Regions from separate parts of the Homo sapiens genome. Here regions 1, 2, 3 and 4 are each linked to region 5. The links come from fine-mapping of genetic effects on gene expression. A gene starts in region 5. Each other region holds a variant in brackets. All regions are shown on one strand. Distances are between the middles of the regions.

Region 1 (5,168 bases), 57 kb after region 5:
AAGGAACTGACTCATGCAGTTGTGGAGGCTGGCAAGTCTAAAATCTGCAGGGCAGGCTGGCAGCCGAGCCCCAGGGAAGGGTGGATGTTGCCACTCCAGCCTGAAGGCTTTCTGAAGGCAGAATCCCCTCTTCCCGGGGAACCTCAGTCTTTTTCTCCCACGGCCTTCACCTGATTAGATGAGACCCACCCATAGCCTGGCAGGTCTTTGGCTTCACTCAGGGGCTACTGACTTCAGTGTTCATCGCATCCCAAAAATACCACAGCAACATCTAGGCAGGTGTTTGACCGAATATCTGAGAACCATGCCAAGCCAAGCTGACACATAAAACTGGCTGTGACACTGCTTATCAGTCGCAGTGAATGACGCCTCCCTGCAGTGAGTGTCCAGGCCCCACACCCAGCAGCCTCCTTCATTTCCCTTTTCCTTTCACATCTGTCAGCAAGCCCTGTCAATTCTGTCCTCAGAATACACCCTGCATCTGTTCCCATCTTCTGAGCTAAAACCCTCTTCCGAGCCACCACCACCTCCTGCTTGCAGGACTGCAGCCATCGTCAGGGCCTCCCTGCTGCCCTGCGGGCCTGTGTCTGCCTCTCCATCTCTTACCTCCATCCACCTGTCTCTGTCACTCTGTTTTTGTATTGTCTCTGTTCATCTGTCTCTCTGTCTCTGCCTCTTTTTATCTCCCTCTCTCTCCCTGTCTGTCTGTGTCCCTGTCTCTTTGTCTTTCTCTGTCTTTGTGTCTGTCTCTTTCTCTCTCTCCACAAGGGCCTGGTCATGGAGGATGGCAGTGGCTGGGGTCTGAGGGAGAAGACGACAAGGACATCACATAGTCATAAGTCTTCCCCTGTCACAGATCCATTAGAGATAGAAGTGCCAAGAAGACGCGGTCCTCGGGGAGGCTGGCATTGACATGGCCAAAGTGACACTGCTCCACCAGAGGCAGCCAAGCCACACGGTGTGGGAGAGCCAGGGACTCCAGGGGAGCCGGGCAGACTTGGGGGTGGCAACTGGGAGCAGCAGCTGAGCCCGAGGGCGTGGCAGCACCCAAGGTGCTGCAGGGTTGGATGCAGAGTGTGGTGAGCCCAGACTCAAAGTCCCTCCACCACATCTAGCTGTGTGACCTTGAGCAAGTGTCTTTACCTCTCTGAGCCTCAGTTTCCTCATCTGTAAAGTATTGTACTGACGAATGACAGTATTTATCTCCGGATGGCTGCGAGGCTGAAGTGAGCTTAAGCAAGTGAAGTCCTCAGCTGGTGTCTGGCACAGAGCAAGGGCTCAGTAGATCTTAGCTGTTATTATTACTATCCCCAGGAAGTGGCAGTGGTCCCAAGTGTTGTGATCTTGCAGAAAGGCTGGCACTGCCCGTCAGAGCTGGCTGTCCCAGTGAAGGTGACAACAGCTGAGCCTGCATCTGGCAGAGGGAGCAGGGTCTGGCAGACCTGGCTGTAGCTGGAAGCGTGGTGGCAGCAGTGGGTTGGCAGCGGTGTGGTGGTCATTTGCCGGCAGGCGAAGCGCTGAGGTCCCAGAGTGCTGCCCAAGAGCCCCGTGTTTGAAGGCACTGGGAGGTGGTCCCTGGTGACTCCAGACCTGCTCAGGTAGATTTTGCAGGGAGCCAGGGCCAAGCAAAAGCAGGAGGGGGAAAAAGCATCTTTTAGTTCCCTTTCTCTGAAAGCAAACAGTCACAAGCTACAAGCCTGGGGCTTGTGAGGATCGCCAACTCTTCTGCGCACCGGTGAGTTCTTGACAATCAGATGAACAGAGGGAAAGAGGCGTGCCCTTGCTAGCCAACTTCCTGGAGCCCTCTCAGCTGGCATCTTGGTGCTTGTACACATTTGAGAGCATCAGCATTTCTTTACAAATGACCCCATCAGCTCGCCAGTCACCTTGCTTTGCTGGAAGTTTGCCTTGGGATTTGGGAGAATTTAGTTGAAACCAGTAACACCCAGCGTGGCCAAATTCCATATGCTCCTTCTGCGTCTGTGTAACAATTTCCTTTCTTTTTTTGAGATGATTCTCACTCTGTTACCCAGGCTGGAGTGCAGTAGCATGATCTCGGCTCACTGCAGCCTCTGCCTCCTCAGTTCAAGTCATTCTCCTGCCTCAGCCTCCCCCAAGCAGCTGGGACCACAGGCGTGTGCCACTACACCCAGCTAATTTTTGTATTATTAGTAGAGACAGGGTTTCACGATATTCAGGCTGGTCTCAAACCCCTGGCCTCAAGTGATCCATCTGCCTCAGCCTCCCAAAGTTCTGGGATTACATGCGTGAGCCACCACACTCAGCCTCTATGTAACAGTTTCTTTGAAATTTGTCGGAAGCAGGTTACCAGGGAGAAATAATATTTTTAATTATTCTTTCATTTATTTATTGTTTGTACATTTTCTGTGTGTGCATTCATCTGCAGGTTGTATCTTGGAATAGACCCCGCAGAGACGTGCAAGTAATGACTTCACATTAACGTGTCACTGGCCTGCCCTTGATGTGTTGGGGGGCCGGGCAAGAGTACAAATGGAGACCCACCTTTAAAAGTCATAAATCAAGGCAGGCATGGTGGCTCATGCCTGCCATCTCAGCATTTTGGGAGGCCAAGGCAGGAAGATCGCTTGAGGCCAGGAGTTGGAGACCAGACTGGGGAACATAGTGAGACCCCATCTCTACAAAATTAAAAATTAGCCGAGCATGGTGGCACACACCTGTAGTCCCAGCTACTTGGGAGGCTGAGGCAGGAGGATCTCTTGAGCCCAGGGGTTCAAGGCTGCAGTGAGCTATGATTGCGCCACCACACTCTAGCCTAGGTGACAGAGTGAGACCCTGTCTCTTTTTTT[T/A]AAAAAAAGTTATAAATCAAGTTAGCAAAGCAAATCAAGTTAACAAAGCGGTTCTGACAATGAACTCTTCAGAACCACCTGGAAGGCCAAGCTTTGGCCTTTGGGATGCGGGGACTCCTGAGCTCCCCCTGGGTTGTGGTGGGCAGTAGGGGCTGGCATGTGTCCCACCTGCCTGTGTCCCTTTTTGCTCCACATCCCTTCCTGCCCCACCCGAGTCCTCCTGGAGTCCACACGTGTGGACACCCAGCCCATGATTCGAGCTCTGGCCATCCCTCCACACCACCCCATAGCTGCCCCCTTGCAGGCCCATGGGCAGGGCCGTGGGTACCAGCAGCCTGCTCTTCGGAGGCTGCATCTGAAGAACGGGTTTGTGCAGGCTCTGAAGGAACGCCTGCGCTGTTTCAGAAGGAACCTCCAGTGCCAGGAAATTTGGAGCCTGATACAGAAGCAACATTCCGGTTTGGCACATTCCCTTGACCCTGGAGAGGCTGTGAGTGGGGCCCTCTAAAGCACGGGGCCCAGGACAGAGACCCCTCTCATCCAGGTTCAAGGGAGCGCAGACTGACCGTCCACCTCCACAGATTTAGTTAGCAAAGGTATCAAACTAGACAAGCCCCGGGGAAATTTCTGTCCCTCGTGAGTAAGTAAAAATGATATGTATCAAACAGTAATTTTGAGGAAAGGAAAAAAAAGACAGCAAAACTCATACGATCTCATCTCAGGTTACAGAATCTTAGGCGTTAACTAGCTGATCTCATGTCACAAAAAGTCCGGGTAGGAGAGTCAGCATTTTGGGGTCTTCATCCAATTCCCCAGTGCCCTGGCTTCACACTGGCCAGCTCATTTGACCTCCCCGAGGCAGAGCGACAGGAAAGCACGTGACTCATCTCCTTCTAGCGTGTGTCTGTCCCAACAAAGTCCTAATCAAGATCCCCGAGAGATCCTCGGGCTGCAAGATGCCTGGGAAATATCAATTGTTGTCAGCCTCACAGGCTCCATGCAGGGAATTCCTGCAGGCTCAGAGGCCTTTGTCATCAGGGAGCTTGCAGTCAAACGACTTGTGGTTTTCTTCAGCACTTCGGTATCGGCCAGGATCTCTTTTCTTTTTCTGACACTCTCAGACAAAATGCACAGAACAGTTTACAAGCCCCTCCAAGTTCTCTAGTCCCTCTTGATAATTGCCTCTGAATATTGACACAGTTTTAATATACAAATTTAATACGCAGAGGGATGGTAGATGCGATGACTTGGATAATCCCCATGAGCAGGGAATAATAAAATAGACACGTGGCTTTGGAATTAATTATACTTTATTTGGCTTCATGATTTAGTTTTGAATTATATAATTGACTTTATATTAAGTAAATTTAAGTTACATAGGTGGTTGAGAAAGAACCAATAATCAAATGGAAAAAAGCCAACCTGGGGTTCATTTTTGTTTTCCTTCGTGCGGAATAGAAGTTGCTGATTCACTCGTGGGTGGTTGAGTGTTATTCATATACTCAAGAGCTTATGTTCTTTGTATCATTTGTTTGGGGTATTTTTTTTAAGTTCCGGGGTACATGTGCAGGATGTGCAGGTTTGTTACATAGGTAAATGTGTGCCATGGTGATTAGCCACACCTATCAACCTGTCTCCTAGGTATTAAGCACAGCATGCATTAGCTATTCTTCCTGATGCTCTCCCTGCCCTGTCCCCACCAATAGGCCCCAGTGTGTGTTGTTCCCCTCCCTGTGTCCGTATGTTCTCATTGCTCAGCTCCCACTTATAAGTGAGAAGGTGCAGTGTTTGGTTTTCTGTTCCTGTGTTAGTTTGCTGAGGACAATGGTTTCTAGCTCCATCCATGTCCCTGCAAAGGACATGAACTTGTTCCATTTTATGGCTGCATAGTATTCCATGGTGTATATATGTACCACGTTTTCTTTATCCAGTCTATCTTTGAGGGACCTTTGGGTAGATTCCATGTCTTTGCTATTGTGGTTTTTTTTTTTTTTTTTGAGACGGAGTCTCACTCTGTTGCCCAGGCTGGAGTGCAGTGGCGCGATCTCGGCTCACTGCAAGCTCCGCCTCCCGGGTTCAAGCAGTTCTGCCTCAGCCTCCCGAGTAGCTGGGACTACAGGCACCCGCCACCATGCCTGGCTAATTTTTTGTATTTTTAATAGAGACAGGGTTTCACCGTGTTAGCCAGGATTGCCTCGATCTCCTGACCTCGTGATCCGCCGCCTCGTCCTCCCAAAGTGCTGGGATTACAGGCGTGAGCCACTGCACCCGGCCTATTGTGGGTATTTTTAAAGAACACAACATAGTGAAAGGTGTTTGTTTTTCTTTTACAAAACAAAA
Region 2 (5,168 bases), 44 kb after region 5:
AATCTTGGGCAATAATGCATAGGAGTTCTTGATACCCCTTCATTGATTACTGTGTATCAGTTCTTTGTTAGGCATGAACGTCTTTATTAATCCATCATTCTTTTCTTCATTCAACAAATATGTATTGAACACCTCCTATATGCCAGGCACTGTGCTAGGTGCTGGGAATACCACTGATGAGACAGACAAGGTCCCTACTCTTGTGGAGTTTACTTCTGGTGGAGGAGACAGATGATAAGTAAACAAATAAATAATGTAGTTTGAGATAGTGATTAAGTGCTATGAAGAAAATAAACTAGGGTGATGATTTTAGTGGTGGGGTGGGGTGGGGGTGGGGTGACATTAGCTAGTGGTCAGGGAGGCCTTTCCGCGGTGGGATGTTGAGCTGAGGCCGGAGGAGAAGTAGCAGTCGCTGGCAGAGCACACAGGCTGCTCTGGGGGATGAGCTGGTGCGTTTAAGGAACAGGCCAGCACTGGCATTCGCAAGCAGTGGGGAAGGGGAGAGATGCCGAGGTGGTCAGTATCCTGACTTTCAGAGGCCTTTTTTTGTTTGTTTTAATTTTTGCTAGATTGATATTAAAAACTCATGTGGAGGAACTCAAGGAATGTTTAGAAGACCAAAAGTCCCCAATGACAGGAACAAAAGCAACCAATTTTTAACTTTCTCTTCTCATTCCTGTTTTCATTGATTTCCCACATGTAGTCCTTTTGCTCAGGAAGTCTTTGGGGAAATTAAGGATCTTTGAAGCTCTGAAATAGGTGATCAGGTTAGTGGTGTCTGTCAGCTGTCTAAGAGGTTGGAAAATGAACTACTCAAGATAGTCACGAAAATACTGAAAGTTTGATTTTTCTTTCCATATTTGAATTAATTTTTTCTGTTTGACTGGAAGGGGTTTTTGTATAACTAAAACCTCAGCGCATAAAGGAGATTTAAAAGGAGCACATGATTTAGTGGGTGGGCCATGAAACTAGAGATGGGATTTGGGGGTGAATTTGTCAATATCTGGATTTTAATCCAGACATCTCTGCTAACAAGCCTTTGGTAAGTCACTTCAGATACTTTTCCTCCTTTTTACAAAGAGAGGGCTGGCTTAGTTATTTGCCAAAGCCCCTTCCAGGCCTGAATTCCACAAGTACGATTTACTGTAGTGTCTTATCACTCTTTCATGTCACAATAGCGTGGAGCATTAGAGAAAAGCCTAGACTTTTAGTTGATAGCCAGTTGAAATATCATTGATAGAATTTTAGTTTTAGGAAAAATTGGTTTGATTTCTAGCTTTATTACTATTAGGTATGTGAGCTTGGGCAAATCGCTTAATCTTTGAGTCTAGTTTTCTCTCAAAATGAGAACATTAGGCTAAATGATTTCCGAGTTTCCAGCTAGTCCTAGAGTTCTATATTTCTACATAGTTGAATTATTTTATCATGCTGTTGCTGGGGAATATGACTAACCCTTTTGAAGCTACTAATTTTATGTCGAGCTTTAAAGTCCATAATTGTTATCTTCAGAAAATATTATTTGACCTACAGTATGTCCAAATCAATTTAATAAAATCGCTTTATAACAGGGTTCTGTGCTTGACATGTAGTTGTGTGAATTCAGTGGTCGTGTGTGGGAGTATGGGTATGGGTGTGTGGTGGAGAATTGGCTTGCACATTAAGCCCAGGGTGACCATGTAATTTATTGTCCAAACTGAGCACTTGAGAGTGAAGGGAGGGGGTGCTGTTGATACTCACATCTGGACAACAAGCCTCGAATGGGCCTTTCTCGGGCACACTAAGGTGTGAGGACACCTTGGTCTGAGGTCACAGCCACACAGGTAATAAATGACTCAAGTCAGGAATAATCCATCTGGAGAGAGCACAGTCCACTGAGAGGACTGCCTCAGCTCGGCTGTGGCTCTGTGTTCACGGCGAATACAGGCCCACAGCTCTTCTAAGAAAACACCAACCTCGATTTTCACACACAGTTTAATCTTAAAATGTTGGCAGCTAATTCCTTTTCCTTGGGTGATCCATTTTGGTGCTTTCTGTGATCTTCCTGGTGCCCCTTGGCAGTTCCTCCAAGCCCTGCCCTGGCCCCTGCTGACTGCAGCCCATGCCTGGGAAGGCGTGAAGTGCTGTCAGCTGAAGCAGAGGGGGCCCACGTTCTGTGCCGCAGTCAACAGTCTGACTGGCTGTGGCGTCTACCAGCTTTGAGAGACAAGTCTGCATTGCAATTCCACCATTGGGATGGGAGCAACCCAAACTAGCCCTTCTGATGGGGGTGGGGGGTGGGGGCAAGGGTAGGTCATCTGTGATGGGATTCACTCTTGGT[GAA/G]TCTGCTAGGATTTAGAGTGTGAGCCAAGATAAGTCCAGAATGACTGCATGGTTTCTAACTTGGAAGCATGAATAAACGGCAGATTGCCTCTTGCAGATAGGAAGAACTCTTTGCATCAGAGTCCAACATTGAGATAGTCTACTGCGTGAGAATGTGGGCACAGCTCGTCAGGCCATCTCAGAAATTGAAGAGGGATTACTTTGTGTTGTGTGAGCATGGACATGATTCCTTCCAAGGGACCTTCTAGCTCTTGGCTCTGTTCTTAAAATTTTTGAATTATTTCTCAGTCTTTGTAATGTACTGATATTCTCAGAAATTTGAAAAACTAGGTGAATGGAAAGCAAATATCAGAAGCAGATGGAAAATATACTCAGTGGTAAAATCTAGGAAAAGATGAGAAAGGTTGATACTACTACAGGGCAAGAGCCATATATAAATAGCAAAGCTGAGTTAAGATCTATGGATTAGAGAGGAAGAGAGGAAAAATGAAGATGATAGAGCACTTCCTCTAACCATATTCATTTTCTTAATTTTTCTAAACCTCAAGTTTCTCATCTTTAAAATGGTTTTGAAAATATCTAATTCATGGAAATGTTGGGAGAAGTAAATAAACGTAAAGTGCCTAGCATTTAGTGCTATAACGAATTCCTATTCCCAGTTGCCTATTAAGGAAGAAAGGTCATGTTATTTGGATTCCTTTTTGTTTTGCTGAGCTCTGTGGTGGGTTTGGACATCTAAAATTGGGGTAGGACCTGGAGAGGGCTGAATTGCTCCACATGGTAAGAGAGAGAACTTGAATCTCCTGGGGTAGTTGGAGGTAAGAAAACAAAGGGTAGACTTGGAGTGGGAGAGAGGACCAGGGAACCAGTGGAGTAGGATGGTCTGAAGTTCTGAGCTCTTGTGTAGGAAAACTTCGTGACCACAAAGTCTTTCCCTAAAGTTAGGGGTGTTTGGCATGGTGGATTTCTTATGGAAACTGGTGGAAGGGCTGAGTGCTGTATCCAGGGTGAAATGGGGCAACACGTAAGTACCACACATAAATATAGGAGCCAGAAGAGGGTGCCCCTGAGAACAAGCTCCAAGGAATATGCAGAATATGCAGAAATCTTCAGGGTAGCTAAAAGCTGCTACAGGCCATGGAATTAATGGAGTTTTGAGTCAAGTTTACCCAAACCCCTAAGGGGCAGGGAGGCCTGGGATATCTTTATTTCCACTCTCAATGTACATGAAGTAGAATAACTTTATAATCATAAGTAAGTTGAAACTTAAGAATTTTTTTTATCATTCTCATTTTAACATATTACAAAACACATGAACAAATCCAGAGATCCCAAGGCTGTGTGTGTGTTTATGCCAGTAAGAACTTGTCATAAATATCGGTGGAAAATGACACTTTATACCAAAGCAATTTTATTGCTCAGATTTAGGCATATGTAAATAAACTGCATTTCTAGAGTAAAGTAGCACATACAGATTTTGTGTATTTTTAGGCGGATGTATGCATTTTATAGACTCTGTACCTTCCTAAATACTGTGTCTAAATATGGCTTCGCTGAGAGACCGACTTTCCCTCCCCCTCTTAATTCTTTGCTGGCCCTGATCCAGGTCTTCTCTGCATCATGAATTATGGTGGGGGTGTTGTATTTACAGAATTTTAAAACCTAAGACCTGCAGACGGCTTTTGGGGAGGTCTAGAACCTTTTTAAGTTATGTGCAGAATTTTGTGTACCTGTAGGTCTATGCATTTTTCTAGGAAAGGGGGCTTTCCTTATGTTTGTGACTCTAAGAGATAAAGAACACTGGCTGGCATATGGTTACTCGTTGTTTGGGGATCTTGGGAGGCAAAAGGGGTGCCTAAGAGTTCCAGTTAGTGGAATGGATAGGAAATGATGGGTATAATAAACGGAGGAAAAAACACAACGCTGTGTTGTGAGGAAAGAGGGAAAAGGACGTTGGCATAAAATGGAAGGATACATGTGCATGTGTTGTTATGCTGGGCCCAGGAGGTAGGCTGTGTGGCAGTTTCGATGTCATACGCTTAAGACAACAGTTCTGCGAACAGTGTATTAAAAGAATATAGGTGAGGACAATTGAGTATTCAGAGGGGACTGGCTGGACGTGGACGGAATTGGCTACCTGAATGGAAAACACTAGATCTCAACTGAATCTGTCTTGGTTACAGAGGAGGCAGTTCTTGCTGTAAAATGGGTGAGGGCCCCAGTACTGGTGTGGGTTGTATTTAGGTTCTCAAATAGACCTATTCATATTGCTCAATGCCATGTTCTCTCATGTCTAATTTTTATGTCCTACCTCACTTGCCTGGGATCTCTGACTGTTTAAGTCAGTCCTCTTTAGTCTTCATCCTGTCTGTCCCCAAAATGTCTTTTTTTTTTTTTTTTTTTTTTACCCCTGATACTCTTCCATCCTTGTGTGCCCCCCGCTCCCCTTTCTGAGATAAGGTCAAGACCCACAGGGACTTAGTCTCAAGGGTAAGTCCTGTTTCTACAGTCTGTGGAGGATGACGGGAGAGTCTGGTAGAGCAGCAAGCCCTACTTCCTGGAGCTGTTGTTGCCACATTGTTATAGTTGAAACAGGCAGTGTCTGGAAAGAACTGAATCCTCTGTGTTTTGCTTGCCTCACTTGATCCAGTAAACATTAGGAGAAGAAATTAAAAAAACAGGAAAGGATAAGATGGCAGGAGTAAGTTGAAGCATATTGTTAATCATAGTAAATGTGAACTGGTTAAATTCAGCTACTTAGGGACATTTTCAAGTTGATTTGTAAATGACGTCACAAACGTGTATATGATGGTTATGGGAGACCACCTAAAATAAAGGGGTGACCCAAA
Region 3 (5,000 bases), 130 kb before region 5:
TTTTTATTGCTTTTCCTACTTATTTATTTATTTATTTATTTATTGAGACAGAGTCTCGCTCTGTCACCCAGGCTGGAGTGCAATGGCGCTATCTCGGCTTACTACAACCTCCGCCTTCCAGGTTCAAGCGATTCTCCTGCCTTAGACTTCTGAGTAGTTGGGATTACAGGTGCACATCACCACACCCGGCTAACTTTTGTATTTTTAGTAGAGACAGGGTTTCGCCATGTTGGCCAGGCTGGTCTCGAACTCCCGACCTCAGGTGATCTGCCGGCCTCGGCCTCCCAAAGCGCTGGGATTACAGGCGTGAGCCAAAGCATTCGGCCTCCTACTCTTTTAAATTTATTTTGCCATTAACTGTAGGTCATCAAGATAATGACTATAGTAATCCGCAGTCACTTTTCCAGTATTGGCATTGTATTACTGTGTTTTCACACTGCTATACAGAAATACTCAAGACTGGGTAATTTATAAAGAAAAAGGTTTAATTGACTCACAGTCACGCATGGCTGGGGAGGCCTCAGGAAACTTACAGTCATGGCGGAAGACAAAGGAAAAGCAAGTACCTTTTTCACAAGGTGGCGGGAAAGAGAGAGAGAGAAGGAGGAACTAACAACCACTTATAAAACCGTCAGATCTCATGAGAACTCACTCAGTATCACGAGAACAGCATGGGGAAACCGCCCCCATGATCCAGTCACCTCCCACCAGGTCCTTCCCTCAACACCTGGGGATTATGGGGATTACAATTTGAGACGAGACGTGGGTGGGGACACAGAGCCAAACCATATCAGGCATTTACAGCTCTGAGTCCATTATTTTTTAAGTGCAGTTTAGAAAAAAAGCTTTGTCTAAATGTGTCTCAAGGCAATCACAAGCTTTGTAAGTTAGTGCCTCTGGAGAGGACATCCAAGTGGCCAATAAACATGAAAAGAGGAGAAACCCCACGACTCAGCAGGATCTGTACATTAAGGGAGGATGAGATGTTTTGTTTCACTTTTCAGACTGGCAAAAATTCAAAAGCGTGTTACAACCTGGCCTGCAAACCTGGGCAGTGTGGTCAGAGATTATGAAATTCTTTGTTGGAATTTTAATTTTCTTTCTTGAGACAGGGTCTTGCTCTGTTGCCCTGGCCGGAGTACAGTGATGCGAGCTCGGCTCACTGAAGCCTTGAGTTCCTAGGTTCAAGCAATCCTCCCACCTCAGCCTCCTGAATAGCTGGGACCACAGGCATGTACCACCACATCTGGCTAATTTTTGTATTTTTGGTAGAGACAAGGTTTCGCTGTGTTGCCCAGGCTGGTCTCAAACTCCTGAGCTCAAGCAATCTGCCCCAGCTTGGCCTCCCATAATGCTGGGATTACAGGTGTGAGCCACCGTGCCCAGCCTGGAATATTGTTTTACTTCTTACATAAACCTCAAATACTAAGTAAGTTTGAAAACCTATAATCAAATATTTTATTTTATTTTATTTTTTAGAGACAGGGCCTTGCTCTGTCACTCAGGTTGGAGTACAGTGCACAATTGTAGTTGGCTGCGGCCTCCAACTCCTGGGCTCCAGCGCCCCTGGAGTAGCTGGGACTACAGGCATGCGTCATTATGCCTGGCTAGTTTTTAATTTATTTTTTGTAGAGATAGGGTTTTGCTATGTTGCCCAGGCTAGTCTTGAACTCCTGGCTTCAAGTGATCCTCTTCCTTGGCCTCCCAAAGTGTTGGGTTTACAGGCGTGAGCTACCACGACTGGCCCCAAACATTTAAAAAGTGATCTGGCATCTTTCTGTGCAGTCAGGTACCTGCAACATTTTTTGTGGAGAGAGGCACCCTCGGCCTGGAATTTTACTACCTAGTCGGAGATAGGTAACATCTTACTCTCACCTAAGTCTTACTCCTCTGACTTACTTAGGTAAACAAATACAGGCACTTGCTTACCTAAAACCTTTACTTTGCCCTCCCTATTCCAGATCAAAGAAATAAATTCCTGAAGGGACTGTTTTGGGTACCAGTCCCCGGATTGATCAGAGCCTCTTACAGGTGTGCGTTTTCTGCAGAGTCGACTGGATGCTCCTGTACCAGGGCATGGTGGTGCTGGCCGCTAGCCAGGTGTGGTGGACCTGGGAGGTGGAAGACGTCTTCCACAAAGCGCAAAAAGGGGAGAAGCAGGCCATGAAGAACTATGGCAGGAAAATGCACCGGCAGATCGATGAGTTGGTAACGCGCATCACCATGCCGCTAAGCAAAAACGACAGGAAAAAATACAACACTGTTCTCATCATTGATGTGCATGCCAGAGACATAGTTGATTCTTTCATAAGAGGCAGGTGAGCATTTTCCGGGGTCACTG[G/A]CATTTCAAAAGGGACCCTTTGTGGTCCGCTGATCTGTCTCAACGGTTTCCACTTCCTCCACCTTTCTTGCCGTCCAGTATCCTGGAGGCCCGAGAGTTTGACTGGGAAAGTCAGTTGCGGTTTTATTGGGACCGGGAGCCGGATGAGCTGAACATCCGCCAGTGCACGGGAACCTTTGGCTACGGCTACGAGTACATGGGCCTGAACGGCAGGCTGGTCATCACGCCCCTCACCGATCGGATTTACCTGACGCTCACCCAGGTGACTGCCAGCCTGGCACTTGTGGTTACCACTTACCTTGGGGCGGGGCATTTTCTCTAAGCTTGAGGTGTGATGACTGCAGTGATTGAAATAGCAGGGGAGATCATTGCTTTGAAATCTCGAAAAGCTTTTCCATTTGGGATGTGACCAGATTGTCACCATTTGGGATTGGCATGTAAGTGTGGCCGTGCTTAGCCACTGGTACACTGGTCCCTAGGTAATGGTGTGTCAGGGGTATTGGTAGAGGCCAATGCGAAAATGCAGGAATGTCAAAGGTGGTGACTGTTAGGGCAAGTGTGATGTGGTTTTGCACGTCTTGTGACAGCTTTTATTCCAGAATATATCCGTTCAAGTGAACGGCCTTGGATGATAGAGATAGTGTCTCCCTCCAGGACAGAGGGTAAACTTGTTTGTTGTACAGGAAATGAAGATAACACTTCCATCCAGGCAGAGCTTGGGAAGGTTTGCAAGCAACCCCCAAGACTGTTTGTCAGATGCTTGCTAGTTTTCTTTTTTTAAATTAGAGATGAGGTCTTGATATGTTGCCCAGGCTTGCCTTGAACTCCTGGCCTCAAGTGATCCTCCCACCTTGGCCTCCTGAGTAGCTAGGACTATAGCATTCACTGCTGCACCTGGCTACATTGGTGGTCTCTTAGGCTCACAGTTTCTCAGCTGTGACTCATACCCACTGTGGATGTGGCATGCACCTGGGCCCGTCTCCACATCACACCATGGGATTTGGGGGGACAAGGATAAAGGGAATGAGTGAGAACAGGAAGCCCCTGCTGCCTCCTGTGCTGTGAGTGATAAAGTCCTTTGTTTTTGAGAAAAAGAGTGTCATCTTATCTGTATTGGTTAGGGTTCCACAGAGAAATAGAACCAATAGGACATAGCTAGCTAGCTGGATGGCTGTCTGTCTGTCTGTGTATCTATCTATCTATCTAATCTATCTATCTTATCCATCCATCCGTGCATCCATCCATCTACATATCCATCCATCCATCCATCCATCCATCCATCCATCCATCCATCCATCCATGTATCTATCCATCCATCCATCCTATTATCTATCTATCTATCTATCTATCTATCTATCTATCTATCTATCTATCCATCCATCCATCCTGTCTATTTATCATCTCGATCATCTATTTTATCTATCTATCTATCTATCTATCTATCTATCTATCTATCTATCTGGATATTTAGGAGGAGATTTATTATGAGGTATTGACTCATGTGATGATAGGGTCTGATTACTCTCACAATCTGCCATCTGCAAGCTGGAGGACCAGGAAGGCCAGTAGCATTTGAAGTTCTGACAGTGAGAGAGCCAATAGTGTAGACTCGTGTCTGGGTCTGAGGGCCTGAGAACCCGAAGTGCCAAGGGTAGAAGCCCAGTGCCCTGGCTCAGTCAGTCAGGCAGCACCAGTGTAACCTCCCTCCATCCTTCTGTTCTGTTCAGTCTTCAATGGATTAGATGATCAGGCAGCACCAATGTAACCTCCCTCCATCCTTCTGTTCTGTTCAGTCTTTAATGGATTAGATGAGGCCCACCCACTTTGGGGAGGGTCATCTGCTTTTCTCAAATGCTAATCTCTTCCTGAAACACACTCATGGACACTCCCAGAAATAATGTTTAGCCAGCTACCTGGGCATCCTGTGGCCCAGTCAAGTTGACACATGAAAGCAAACACCACATTCTTTCTCTATTCTGCACCTATAGTCACAGTGATGAATTTGGAAATGACACCCACTTCCTTCTGTGCACCAGAAAACATATGTTTTGCATTTGGCTTATAACAGGCGCTGTCCATGTATCTAGGTGGGGCCCCCGCCGGCCCAGCAGGAACCGGCAAAACCGAGACCACCAAGGACCTGGCGAAAGCCTTGGGCTTGCTCTGTGTTGTCACCAACTGTGGCGAAGGCATGGATTACAGGGTAAGGCCTGGCTGTCACCTTTGGTACTGGCTCATTAGGCAGAGAGCTTAAAGCAGGACATGGCATTTCACCTCCTAGTCTTTGACATGGCGACAGTGGAAGAAGCTAGTAGAAAACCTTCCACCACCACAGCCCCAGAACCTAAGTGTGTCTGCTTAAAGACCCTGCTTTGTTAGCAGGATGTAGAGCAAGAGTCCCGGATTCACTACCCTAGTAGGGTCAGGTTGATAATGTACGTGAGTAAAGCGGCCAGCAGACAAGAGAGTGGTGGGATCTGTGGCTAACTGGAGAGCAAAAGTCCATCTAAAGAGGGTGCCCGTCCAGCTTTGGTTCATAATCACCATTTGGGAAAGTGGACCCAGCATTGCTAGATTTTCCCACATTTCAAGAGAAGAGAAGAGAAATGGAGTTTTACACAAAAATCTGGATTTGTAAAATCCCAAGTAGGAGCCAGCC
Region 4 (5,000 bases), 67 kb before region 5:
CCCTTAGATCCCCGCTAGGGCTCAAGCCAACCTTTGAGGACTGCACTCTGCTCAGAGCCGGGGCCGCGAGTGCATCTCCTCTGAGCCCAAGCTTTACTCACCCCCTGTCCTACCCTGCAGCCGAGGAGAAGAAGAAACTGGCAGAGGAAAAGGCCATGGAGATAGAGGAGCAGAACAAAGTCATTGCCATGGAGAAGGCCGAGGCCGAGACGACCCTGGCAGAGGTCATGCCCATCCTGGAGGCCGCCAAGCTGGAACTGCAGAAGCTGGACAAGTCGGACGTGACTGAGATTAGGTAATGCACCTGAGCCACCATTCTGGGCTTCCATTCCACCTCTGCAAGCCAGTAGTCTCCATGATCGTGGCAACCAGGAGCTTACAAAGGAGCCGATGCCACATGCTGCCACTGTGCCTGGCTCTCTCCATGGTGGAGACTGTTGTTGCCCTCATTTTCGGATGGGGAAAATGAGGCCCAGGGAGATGAGGTGGGCGCCCCAGGCATCCAGATCCCCCAGCTAGTAGGAAGCAGGGCCTGCTGACCTTGAACCCAGGCCAAGGGAAGGATGGAGTGGGGTAAAACAGTGCTCTTCACGGAACATGCGGGGGCAAGTGTCCGCCCTAAGCAGGGGCAGGATGCTCACCATGGGGCTGAGCCCTGCTGAAAACAGCTCTGCAGAGATGTGTGCACACCACGGCCGGACTGGCGATGCCTGAATCCATTTCCAGCCAAGGAAGCTTTCAAGGAGGGTGAGAGTAGGTCACTATTGAGGCCCCCATACATCTTGCAAATCAATCTGTAAGATGACCCTGTCCCCCACACCAGAGGGCTCATCTGCTGTCAGCGAGGGTAACGTGGTGTGGCGTGGGCTAACAAGCTTTCTCCTCGCATGGCTTGGCCTCCCCAGGGCACTGTTCCTGGGCTCTGATGGTCAGTTGAGTCTTGTGAGTAAAGCCCTGGGAGGGAACACTGTCCTGGTGCCAGCCTCCGCCCACTGCCTCTGCCCCTGTGCTGCCTGGCCCCGCACAGACCCCTCGGCGTGGGAGCCTCAGCTCTCTCCTTCCCCACTCTTCATCCAGAAGGAGATCAGTCTTCCTGGCCCCACACACGGGTCTCGCAGCCGAGAGGCTCCGTTCCTGGGTCAGTAATGGGCTTCCATTCTGGGCTCCCGCTGGAGCGGTGCATGTTCCCTGTGCTTCCTATTTCTCTGCCTCTGTGCTGCCTGTGAAGGCTGAGCAGCGCTCCTTGTCCAAGTCCGTGCCCTTGTTTTCTTATTGGTGAAACATTTGTGAATTTGAGCATGGAATTCAGCTCACTCCAGGACAGAATGACCTCCCGGTTCATTCTTGGGAGGTCACTTGGAGGTGCTGCTGTGGTCAGCAAGAAGTCATTAGTTCAGTGTTGAGGATGGTGTCAAGGAGGGTATAAGGATCGATGTATTAAAACTTCAGCACTAGGCGTTGGAAGTTTAGGCTGAGGTACCAGGACACAGTGGAAGTGCACACCCAGCGGAGGGGTAGGAGACACGGTCAGCACACACATCCTCCAGGGAAATTTCTAGCTACCGGTGATAGGATTTGGGCCACTGCTCCCAGGTCAGCAGCATAAAAACATCGTGAAAGCAGAGACTAGGAAGGATTTTTGAAGGGGATTTATTTGAAGAGAAGGAACGGTGAGTCCCTTCCATCAATCCAAGGTGGAGGAGTGGGGGGGAGCTTCCATGGGGCCAAATAGAGGGCGTGGCATGTGTCCCCTGCAGTGAGACAGGCATTGCAGACAGGTGCCCCGCTCACCCCTGAGAAAGCCTAAGTACAAAAGGAATAATTTTTACACATTCATACATGGCTCTGCCTCTTTGCTGTGTGACGTTTAGCAAGTCATCTAACCTCTCTTTGCTCCAGTTTCTTCATTTGTAAAATGTGGATAAGAATTGTCTCGGCTGCATCAGGGTCTTCATGAGGATCATATGAGCCTATATGTGAAGAACTGGGCTGGGCACATGGTCAGAGCCATGTAAGCATTAGCTGTGATTATGGCTCCAGCATCCAAAAGGTATGCTGGGAAAAGCCCACGGCCACTGTGTCCTCTATCAGCTGTGGTCACCTTCCCACACTGCAACAGGTAGTATGGGTATATCATTTCTCATATACACTTCCTGAGGATTTTCATGCATGACCAAGGCAACCAGGTACACAAGGGTCTCTTCTCTTCCTGACTTCAGGTTCTGAGGGTTTGGAGAGCAGGGGATGCCTGCAAATCCTTTTTTCCTTCTTTTATATACAAATTATAACACCCTATGCATATCTTTCTGCATCTTTTCTGCTTAGCAGTATATTTTGGAGAGCTTTTGCATGTTGATGTATGATGAACTTCCCCGATATTTTAGAACATTCCTTCACATTCCATTGTGTGGCTGTGCCGTAATTTATTTAACAAGGCCTTACTGATGAGTTTGTT[A/C]AATAAATTGATTGTGTCTCCAGTCTTTTGCCTTTACAAACAGCGTGGCAAAGAATAAATCTGACCATAGTTCATTGTGCACGTGGGCGAGTCCACCTGCAGGATACATTTCTGGAAGTGGAATTGCTGGGTCCCAGGGTGTAGGCATTTATAGTGTTCATAGCTGTTGCCTAATCCCCGCCGTGGGGATGGAACCTATTTATCCTCACCAACAATCCAAACGAGTAGTACCTGCTTTTTCCTAGACTTACCAACAGGGGGCGCGATCACATGTTGGGATTTTTGCATATTTTGTAGATGAGTGGTACTTGTGTAGTTTTAATTTGCATTTCTCTTAGTGTGAGTGAAGCTGGCCTTTTTTTTTTTTCCTATGAGAAAAGTGTGTCTAAGAGTTATGTGTATTTCCTTTTCTGTGAACTTGGTTTGCGTATCTATTGGGTCGTGGTTATTGTTGCTTTTTATTTCAAAACCATTTCCAGGGGCTTTTTATATAATGGGGAGCTCAGCTTTTTATCCATAAGGTGAGTTGCAAATCTTTTCCTGGTTTGTCATGGGCTATTTGACTTTGTTTATGAGGTTTATGTGTGTGTTTGTTTTTGCCATCTATGTTTATTTTTATGTGGCAGGTTTTAGCAATATTTTATTTTGTGGCTTTTTTTTTTGAGACAGAGTCTTGCTCAGTCACCCAGGCTGGAGTGCAGTGGCACGATCTCGGCTCACTGCAACCTCCGCCTCCCGGGTTCACGCCATTCTCCTGCCTCAGCCTCCTGAGTAGCTCCAGCCTCCTGAGTACCTCCAGACGCCCGCCACGACGCCTGGCTAATTTTTTTTTGTATTTTTAGTGGAGATGGGGTTTCACCATGTTAGCCAGGATGGTCTCGATCTCCTGACCTTGTGATCCACCCGCCTCGGCCTCCCAAAGTGCTGGGATTACAGGAGTGAGCCACTGCGCCCGGCCTTTGTGGCTTTTTTTAAATTTATTTTTTGAGACAGAGTCTCATTCTGTCACCTAGGCTGGAGTGCAGTGGCGCGATCTCGGCTCACTGCAACCCCTGCCTTCCAGGTTCAAACGATTCTCCTGCCTCAGCCTCACAAGTAGCTGGGGTTATAGACACCCACCACCATGCCCGGCTAATGTTTGTATTTTTAGTAGAGATGGGCTTTCACCATGTTGGCCAAGCTGGTCTCAAACTCCTGACCTCAGGTGATCCACCCACCTCAGCCTCCCAAAGTGTTGGGATTACAGGCATGAGCCACCGCACCCGACCTATTTTGTGGCTTTTGGATATTGTGTCCTAGTTAAAAGGCCTGATCACACTGCAAGATTGTAAAATAATTTCCCCATGATTTCTTTTGGTACTCTTATGTTTTAATTTTTTATATTTAAATCTTTTATCTATTGAGGATTTTTTTCCTGGGGTTCTGTGTGAGTTTGGATCCAATTTGAGTTTTTCCAGATGAGTAAAATCTGGCTTTTCTCAGGTCATTTGGATGTTAAGCGCAATGAGCCGGCACTTACATCTTGACAATTTTATAATCTTTTAAGTCCTTAAAAAGCGCTTCCTTCTTATCATACTCAATCCTCTTTGTAGAAATCATTAAATGTTAAGGCAGGAAGATGAAGAGTCATGAAGATTAGAAGTAGATGTTTCTCTAACTATAAAACTATAAAAGCCTCCCTTTGTTGCTGGCTCTTGAGTTTCACTTTTCTTCCTTTCATTCATTCAGTAGTCAGTGGGTGTCTGTCCCCCACCCCACCCCTGCCCTGAGCAGGCACTGGGGCCCATCAGCAGTGAGGCAGGCAGGGTCTTCACTGCGTGGCGCTGACACTCTGTTTTCCTATAGGAATCCCATGTGCATGGGGAAATTATGTAGGATTAGGTTAGGAAGGAAAGGTCCTTGCTGCTCTGACAGTGGATGTTGGGACCTGACCTAGTCATGGTCATGGAGGGCGGAGGGGGCACCTTCTCTGAGATTGCAAGGAGCTCGGCTGGAGAAAAAGCAGAGACAGCTGGTGTGTCAGGGGTAGAGTACTGGGAGGTGGGGAGTGGGGTTTATAAGGATTATTTTCCTCTAGGGAGGGTAGCATATCATTCTCCCTTTCTCATTCCTGAGTTTGTTTTGTGATAGAAGAAAGGAATCAAATTAAACAGACATCTCCCTTTCTCTTGACTTGCACCCTCCACATTTCACACACCTTGGTCATCCGGCATTGTGGAAAGTGGTATGTTCTGGATAAGTGAGATCCCAGAGCGTGGCCTGCAACCCAACAGCAGAAAACGTCACTTTGGTAGACTCAGAGGATTTGGGAACTGGAAGGTTCCAGTTCTGCGTCTCTACTTCACAGATGGGGAAACTGACGCCCTGGCTGGTTCCTAACTTGCCCAAGGGCTCAGGACCCCGCCGCAGGCCTGGGCTCCTTCTGTCTTGAATCTGAAAACATCTGCCCCATTCTTTCCCCACCTGCTTGTTCACAGAGCGGTGGCCGGGGCCTGGTTTCCATCCACCCTGAAGGGACCTTTTAAAGACACTTGACAGCCCCGCC
Region 5 (5,168 bases):
ATGTGCCATACAAATGCAAAGCACGACTAAGAATCATCTTCGATAGCAGGTGGGTCTTTAATCTACTAAAAAATCTTCCTAGGGTTCATGTAGGTGTCTGCGGATGTTGCTACGTCCACAACTCTAGAAGCCAGCATAAGAAAACAAAAAACAAAAGCCACAGTGCTAAAAGGGAAGTACAGAAGTCCTCGAATATAGTTGCCATCGGAATACCCAGGAGTCCCTCTCAGAAAGACCCTCCTATACCTCTGTGATACCTCCTAATAGCCATTCACGCCAAGTGGGGAACCAGCTGATCCCAAAAGCCCCTAGGGAAGGAGCAGCCCCTTCTTTCCACCGCTAGTTCTCACCATAAACAACTTTTGCCTTCATATAGAAGTGAAATCTGTTTTTCTGTACTCAATAATTACTCAAAATAAATGAAATCCCTTGCTGCATGACAGACCTTCAAATATTTGAAGACAATTAGGACACAGCCACTTCCGTGCCCAAATCCTTCTGCAGGTTGAAACATCAAAGCTGAAGATGTGGAAACTGGTGTCATTAAGTTAGCACCTACCTAGCCGGGATGAAACTTCAATCTGACTCAAACATTTACTGCAACATTGGTGTGTGAAGATACAAAGTCACCTAGTCACTGCCCTTGAAGGACATGGAATTCAGTAAATTCAGTAGATATAATTAATCTTAGTTACCAAATGTGTGCCCACTATGTATTAGAAACTATTTATGGCTGACCTTGTTCCAGATAGAAGGAAAAAAGTTCCATGACTTTTCTTGCCAGAAATACGAGAAAATGCTTTTTTAACATAAGTATTTTTTAAAAGCATCAACATTTTATTAACGTTAGTATCGTTGCAAAGGCATCCTACCAATTAGGTAATTATGTTGAGATCAATTTATCCAAAGATAATTGGATAAGTTGAGATCAATTTATCCAATTTTGCAATTTATCCAACATGGCAGATGAAAGAGTTATAAACCCAAGATGAATGATTCGTTTTTTAAAGAGTTAATAAAAATATCTAATTTCAAAAAAACCCTATTTGTTAGACCGATGTATTTAAAATGTGTCACAGTAAAAATCTCACACAAATAATTGTCCTGTACTTTAGATCTTAAATGTACCTAAACTAAATTTACTGAGTAATTATAATACGCAGAGGAGTAACAAAACTATTTTAAGATTTTTCAGTGGTGTGTATGGATATGTACGCATACCCGTATATATAATCACGAGTTTTAAAGCCTTCTTCCAAGCATATTTCACATAAGATGAACAGTTAGCCAAAAGAATTACATACATTTCAAAACATCTTTGGAGGTAAAAGCCACTTTAAACGTTAGCATCTTTTTCCTTACAATGCAATAGCGAGAAAATGCATGGGAATTCTTGATGAGCAAAAAAAAAAAAAAAGAAAAGTCGTTTTATCAATACCAATGCTCTTTAAATAAATTTCAAACGTAAAAGTTTTAAAATGGCAATCCTAGTTTTAATACTCTTACAGGTTTCTGGAACTGCGTAATATGTTAAAGTATTACAGCGTGGTAGCTTGCATTTTGTTATAAAACCGACTACTGCAACCTAAGCTACAGAGCGCGGTTATATTTTCTCTCTGGCAGCCTAATTTTCCTTAGTGGACTAGATCGTACTGCTAAATACCAAAACTTGAAATGAAACAATACAGGTCAGCATGAAAACCTAAGTTAGAGAAACTCACTCGCCGTAGCAGACGGCAGCCCAGTAGCCAAGCCTGGAGCTCTGCTGCGTTTGTGCATTCTGCTCCGTTTCACGAATCACAGGCAAATCGTTACTCAGAGTAAACTAAAGCCGCATCAAAGCTTCAGGAAGGGGCTGGCAAGGTAGTGTACTTACGGAAAGGCTACCAGGACGGGAGGCGATACAACTTGTCAGGGAGGGTCTCTAAGGTTCCCCGGGTGGTAACAAGCATTTAAAAAGGCGATGTGGATTCAGACGGCCTCCTCCCCACAGCATCCCAGACAAAGCCGGGCTAGGCCCCGGGGCGCTCCTGGTGCACCTGCAATGCGGATCCCTCGCCCTGCGATCCCACCCCGGGGCAGACAGGAGCGCCCCGGGACCGGCCTCTCCTCCCCCTTGGCACTGGGGTGGGCGCGCGCCGCGGCCGGTCCGCACCCTGGACTGGAGCCCGGGCCGGGGAGCCCCCTCCCCAGAAAGGGCCGGCAGACCCCGCGGGGGCGGGCGCGGGGGTCGCCGAGCCTCAGGGACCCTCTTTCCCCGACTCCGCCGTCTCCCGAGTTGCCTTCGCCCGGGGCCACCCCTGCCCCTGGGGGAGCTAACGTGGCTCCCAAGCCCCGGAGGTGGGGCAGGAGGACCCCGTCCCCCGTCTCCCGGCGGGGAGGGTTTTTAAAGTCTTCGCCACGAACTCCCGTCCCTGCCCGGCCCCTCCGCCCCTGCCCGGCCCCTCCGCCCCCGCCGGCGCTGCCAGGTGAGCGGGGCCGGACTCGACACACCCCGGGCCCCGCCTCACCTGCGGGCGCCGCCGTCGCGTTCCTTCAGGCGGCTGCCCTCTTAGGCTCGGTCCTCCCGGCGGGCGGCGGTGGGGGCCCGTGGCCCATGGGCTGGGCGGGGCGCGGCGGGCGGGGCTGCCTGGGCTCGGGCGCTGCCCGGGCCGGGCCGCCGAGGGAGGTCAGTGGGCACCGCCCGCCCGGCGCATCTCGCCCGCTCCCACCCCAGCGCTAGCCGCGGTGCACCCTGGGAGCGGGGCCGGCGGCGAGGCCTGGCCGCGCTGACCCGGCGGGCTAGGCGCCGGCGCGGCGGCGGGCCTGTGTCTGCCGGGCTGGGCGGGGGCGGCGGGCCGATATTCACTTGGCGAGGCGGGGCTACGCCCCCTTCCGCCCGGCTGTGGCGGGGCAGGGGCGAAGGCCGAGGGGAAGGGAGGGTCGGGCCCGCGGGACGCAGGCGCACAGCTCAGGTGCGGCCGCACTGCGGTTGCCCTGGGTAACGCGGCCCGAGGGAGGGGGGGGCGCGGGGAGGAGCGAGGGAGGCGAGCGGGAGCGCGCGCGCCGGGCGCTGGGGTGGGGGATGGCCGGGCCCGACCGGGCCGGGGCTGGGGGGCGGGGGCGGAGGCGGGCGGTGGGGGCGCGGGCCGGGTGGCCGCGCATGCGTGCGGCCCCCGCTCCCCCGGGGCTTCCCCGGCCTCGTGCGTGCGCACGCGCGCTGTCCCCCGGAGGCGTCTGGGTGTGCGGAGCGCGCGCGCGCGCGGCTCGGAGGCGCACCTGTGAGGTGTCCCTGAGGAGAGGGAGGTGGGTGCGCGGCGCCCGCGGCCTGGGGCGCTGACTCCCCTCACTTGGAGTGAGTTCTCGGCGGCCGGGCTGCAGTCTTTCTTTCTTTCCCGGAGGGAGGCGGGGGCCGGGGGCCAGGGAGCGGGCTGGGGGTGGGAAGGAGGTGGAGTGGCTTAAAGAAAAGAAAAACAACCCATCCCGGAGGATGGGCCTCGGGATGGCGGGGAAGGTCAGAGCGGCTCCGCGCAGCCTGGCGGGTCCCGGGCTGAGAAGCCGCCCCTCGGGCCTCGGGCGGTCGGCCGCGGGCCCGCAGTGCGGGGGAGCGGGGCCGGGGGGCGCAGATGGCGGCCGGTGCGAGCGAGGGCTGGGCAGCGGGCAGGGCGAGGCCGGGCGAGGCCCCTCGGGAGCCGGACTCCCGAGCCAGGCTCCATTGTTGTTGGAGCCGAGGGAAGGGGGAGCGCTGCCGCCCTCGTCGCCCGTGGAGCCGCGTCTTGGAGCCCTTCCAGGCGGGTCCCGGGAGAGGCGGTCATGGCCGCGCCAGGGGACCGGGGAGCCGGGCGGCTGCGGAGGAGCCGGCTGCATGGGGTGCTGTGTGTTTTTCAGGGCGCCCTGCGTCCGGCAGAGGAGGCGAGCATCCCGCTCAGGTGATGAGGAACCCCTCGCGCACCCAGCGCAGAAGGCTGCTGCCGCCGGACGCCTCCATTGTTTGACCACAACAAGGGCCGGATTCTCACCCAGGTAAACCGGCTGCCGGCGCTGTCCACTTCCCTCTGACTCCCGCCTCCGCAGGCGTTCTCACCCCTTCCAGGACTCGACTGCAGTTTTCTCACTGTCCCCGGCTTCTCATGAACTCCGTATACCCCCTCCCAGACATTTTCCCGTCCGGATCCATCTCTCCGCCACATCACCTCTCATTTCCCCCAGAACTCAGCTCCTTTGTGAAACCTTTCTTGCCGAACTCTAACAACTAAATCTCCCCGGGAGCCTGCTCCGAACTGAACTGTTCTGGTTGCTAGATTGCTTACGGGCTGTCTTATTGCAACAAAGGAGACCAGATACCGAAAAAAGATTTCTGAGCTATTGCCTTCTTCAAGGAACGTTTTCTGATATTTACAGTTTATTGTTTTCACAGGCTGGAACGGTTTTTAGGCATTTTGGCTTCTTATTTAGAGAGGGCTCCTATTTCCTTCATAGACGCATAGTTTTTTAGAGCAGGAAATTGACCTTGTTCAACCCGCAGGTTAATTAAAAATTTAAAAATTAATTCTAAATTAGCAGAGTAGTACATTTTCTTTGTAAAAACAGCATATCACAGAGATGGCATTTTGTCTTTGACTATCAACCTCTGTCTTCAGGGATGCCGACTATTATGTGTGTGGTGTTTATCCTTCTAGATCTTTTGGAGTACTTTTACGTGTGTGCACTTAACATCATTTTTGACTGCTTTAACAAGGACTGTTGCACCGTAACTTTCAATGTTAGCATGTAATGCTTCAAGTCATTTTTTAACAACTGCTGCACCATGTTCCATAGTTTCAGTATATCATGGTTTAGCCATTTCCCAAATTGATAGCAGTTTAAGTTTTAACTTTAAAACAGCTTTTTTGCTGGTGGTGGTTCTCTGATGAGATGAAATTTCGGTGATAGGAGCACAGATCTACGCTAATTATCGAGATTCGGCATTTATGATGAAGTTCTCTTTTGGTTAAGAAATTGATATGTGGAAGCAGCCACCCCTCCCCTATGGTAGTTCTGACTCTAGCAGTTAGAAGTTGTGTGACCTTGGGGAGGACATTGAATCACACCAAACCTCGGTTTTCTTTTCTGTAAATGGCCTGCTCTGTCTGCTCCATAGAGTTCAGTGATACAGTGCGTATGTGTTGTGGAATGTAAAGTAGTATATA

What was found. PIP is the estimated chance that this variant, and not a neighbour inherited with it, causes the effect.
Region 1: its variant is the best candidate, but not a certain one, in a credible set for the expression of CCDC92 in monocytes after Pam3CSK4 (Quach 2016, PIP 0.73).
Region 2: its variant is the best candidate, but not a certain one, in a credible set for the expression of CCDC92 in lung (TOPMed, PIP 0.50).
Region 3: its variant is the best candidate, but not a certain one, in a credible set for the expression of CCDC92 in lung (GTEx, PIP 0.60).
Region 4: its variant is the best candidate, but not a certain one, in a credible set for the expression of CCDC92 in lung (TOPMed, PIP 0.77).

Annotation. Positions count from the first base shown.
Region 1 is chr12:124,026,978-124,032,145 of GRCh38, forward strand. The region is part of intron 2 of ZNF664-RFLNA (ZNF664-RFLNA readthrough); the gene reads left to right. Among named protein-coding and RNA genes, the nearest start is that of ZNF664-RFLNA, 56 kb to the left of the region's middle. The variant T/A (reference allele first, on the strand shown) is at 2,829.
Region 2 is chr12:124,013,858-124,019,025 of GRCh38, forward strand. All of the region lies in intron 2 of ZNF664-RFLNA (ZNF664-RFLNA readthrough), which reads left to right. It overlaps ZNF664 (zinc finger protein 664), which reads left to right. Exons shown (of 5, transcript NM_152437.3): 5 at 1-1,570. Among named protein-coding and RNA genes, the nearest start is that of ZNF664-RFLNA, 43 kb to the left of the region's middle. The variant GAA/G (reference allele first, on the strand shown) is at 2,318.
Region 3 is chr12:123,843,552-123,848,551 of GRCh38, forward strand. DNAH10 (dynein axonemal heavy chain 10) reads left to right here. Exons shown (of 79, transcript NM_001372106.1): 31 at 2,049-2,318; 32 at 2,420-2,603; 33 at 4,410-4,544. Among named protein-coding and RNA genes, the nearest start is that of DNAH10, 84 kb to the left of the region's middle. The variant G/A (reference allele first, on the strand shown) is at 2,342.
Region 4 is chr12:123,902,819-123,907,818 of GRCh38, forward strand. DNAH10 (dynein axonemal heavy chain 10) reads left to right here. Exons shown (of 79, transcript NM_001372106.1): 57 at 121-295. Among named protein-coding and RNA genes, the nearest start is that of DNAH10OS, 30 kb to the right of the region's middle. The variant A/C (reference allele first, on the strand shown) is at 2,456.
Region 5 is chr12:123,970,019-123,975,186 of GRCh38, forward strand. It overlaps CCDC92 (coiled-coil domain containing 92), which reads right to left and starts at 2,813. Exons shown (of 5, transcript NM_025140.3): 1 at 2,511-2,813. ZNF664-RFLNA (ZNF664-RFLNA readthrough) reads left to right here and starts at 3,197. Exons shown (of 5, transcript NM_001347902.2): 1 at 3,197-3,285; 2 at 3,868-4,002. It overlaps ZNF664 (zinc finger protein 664), which reads left to right and starts at 3,197. Exons shown (of 5, transcript NM_152437.3): 1 at 3,197-3,334; 2 at 3,868-4,002. RefSeq lists enhancers at 1,560-2,297, 2,298-3,035 and silencers at 2,256-2,375, 2,406-3,275, 3,346-3,425, 3,536-3,765.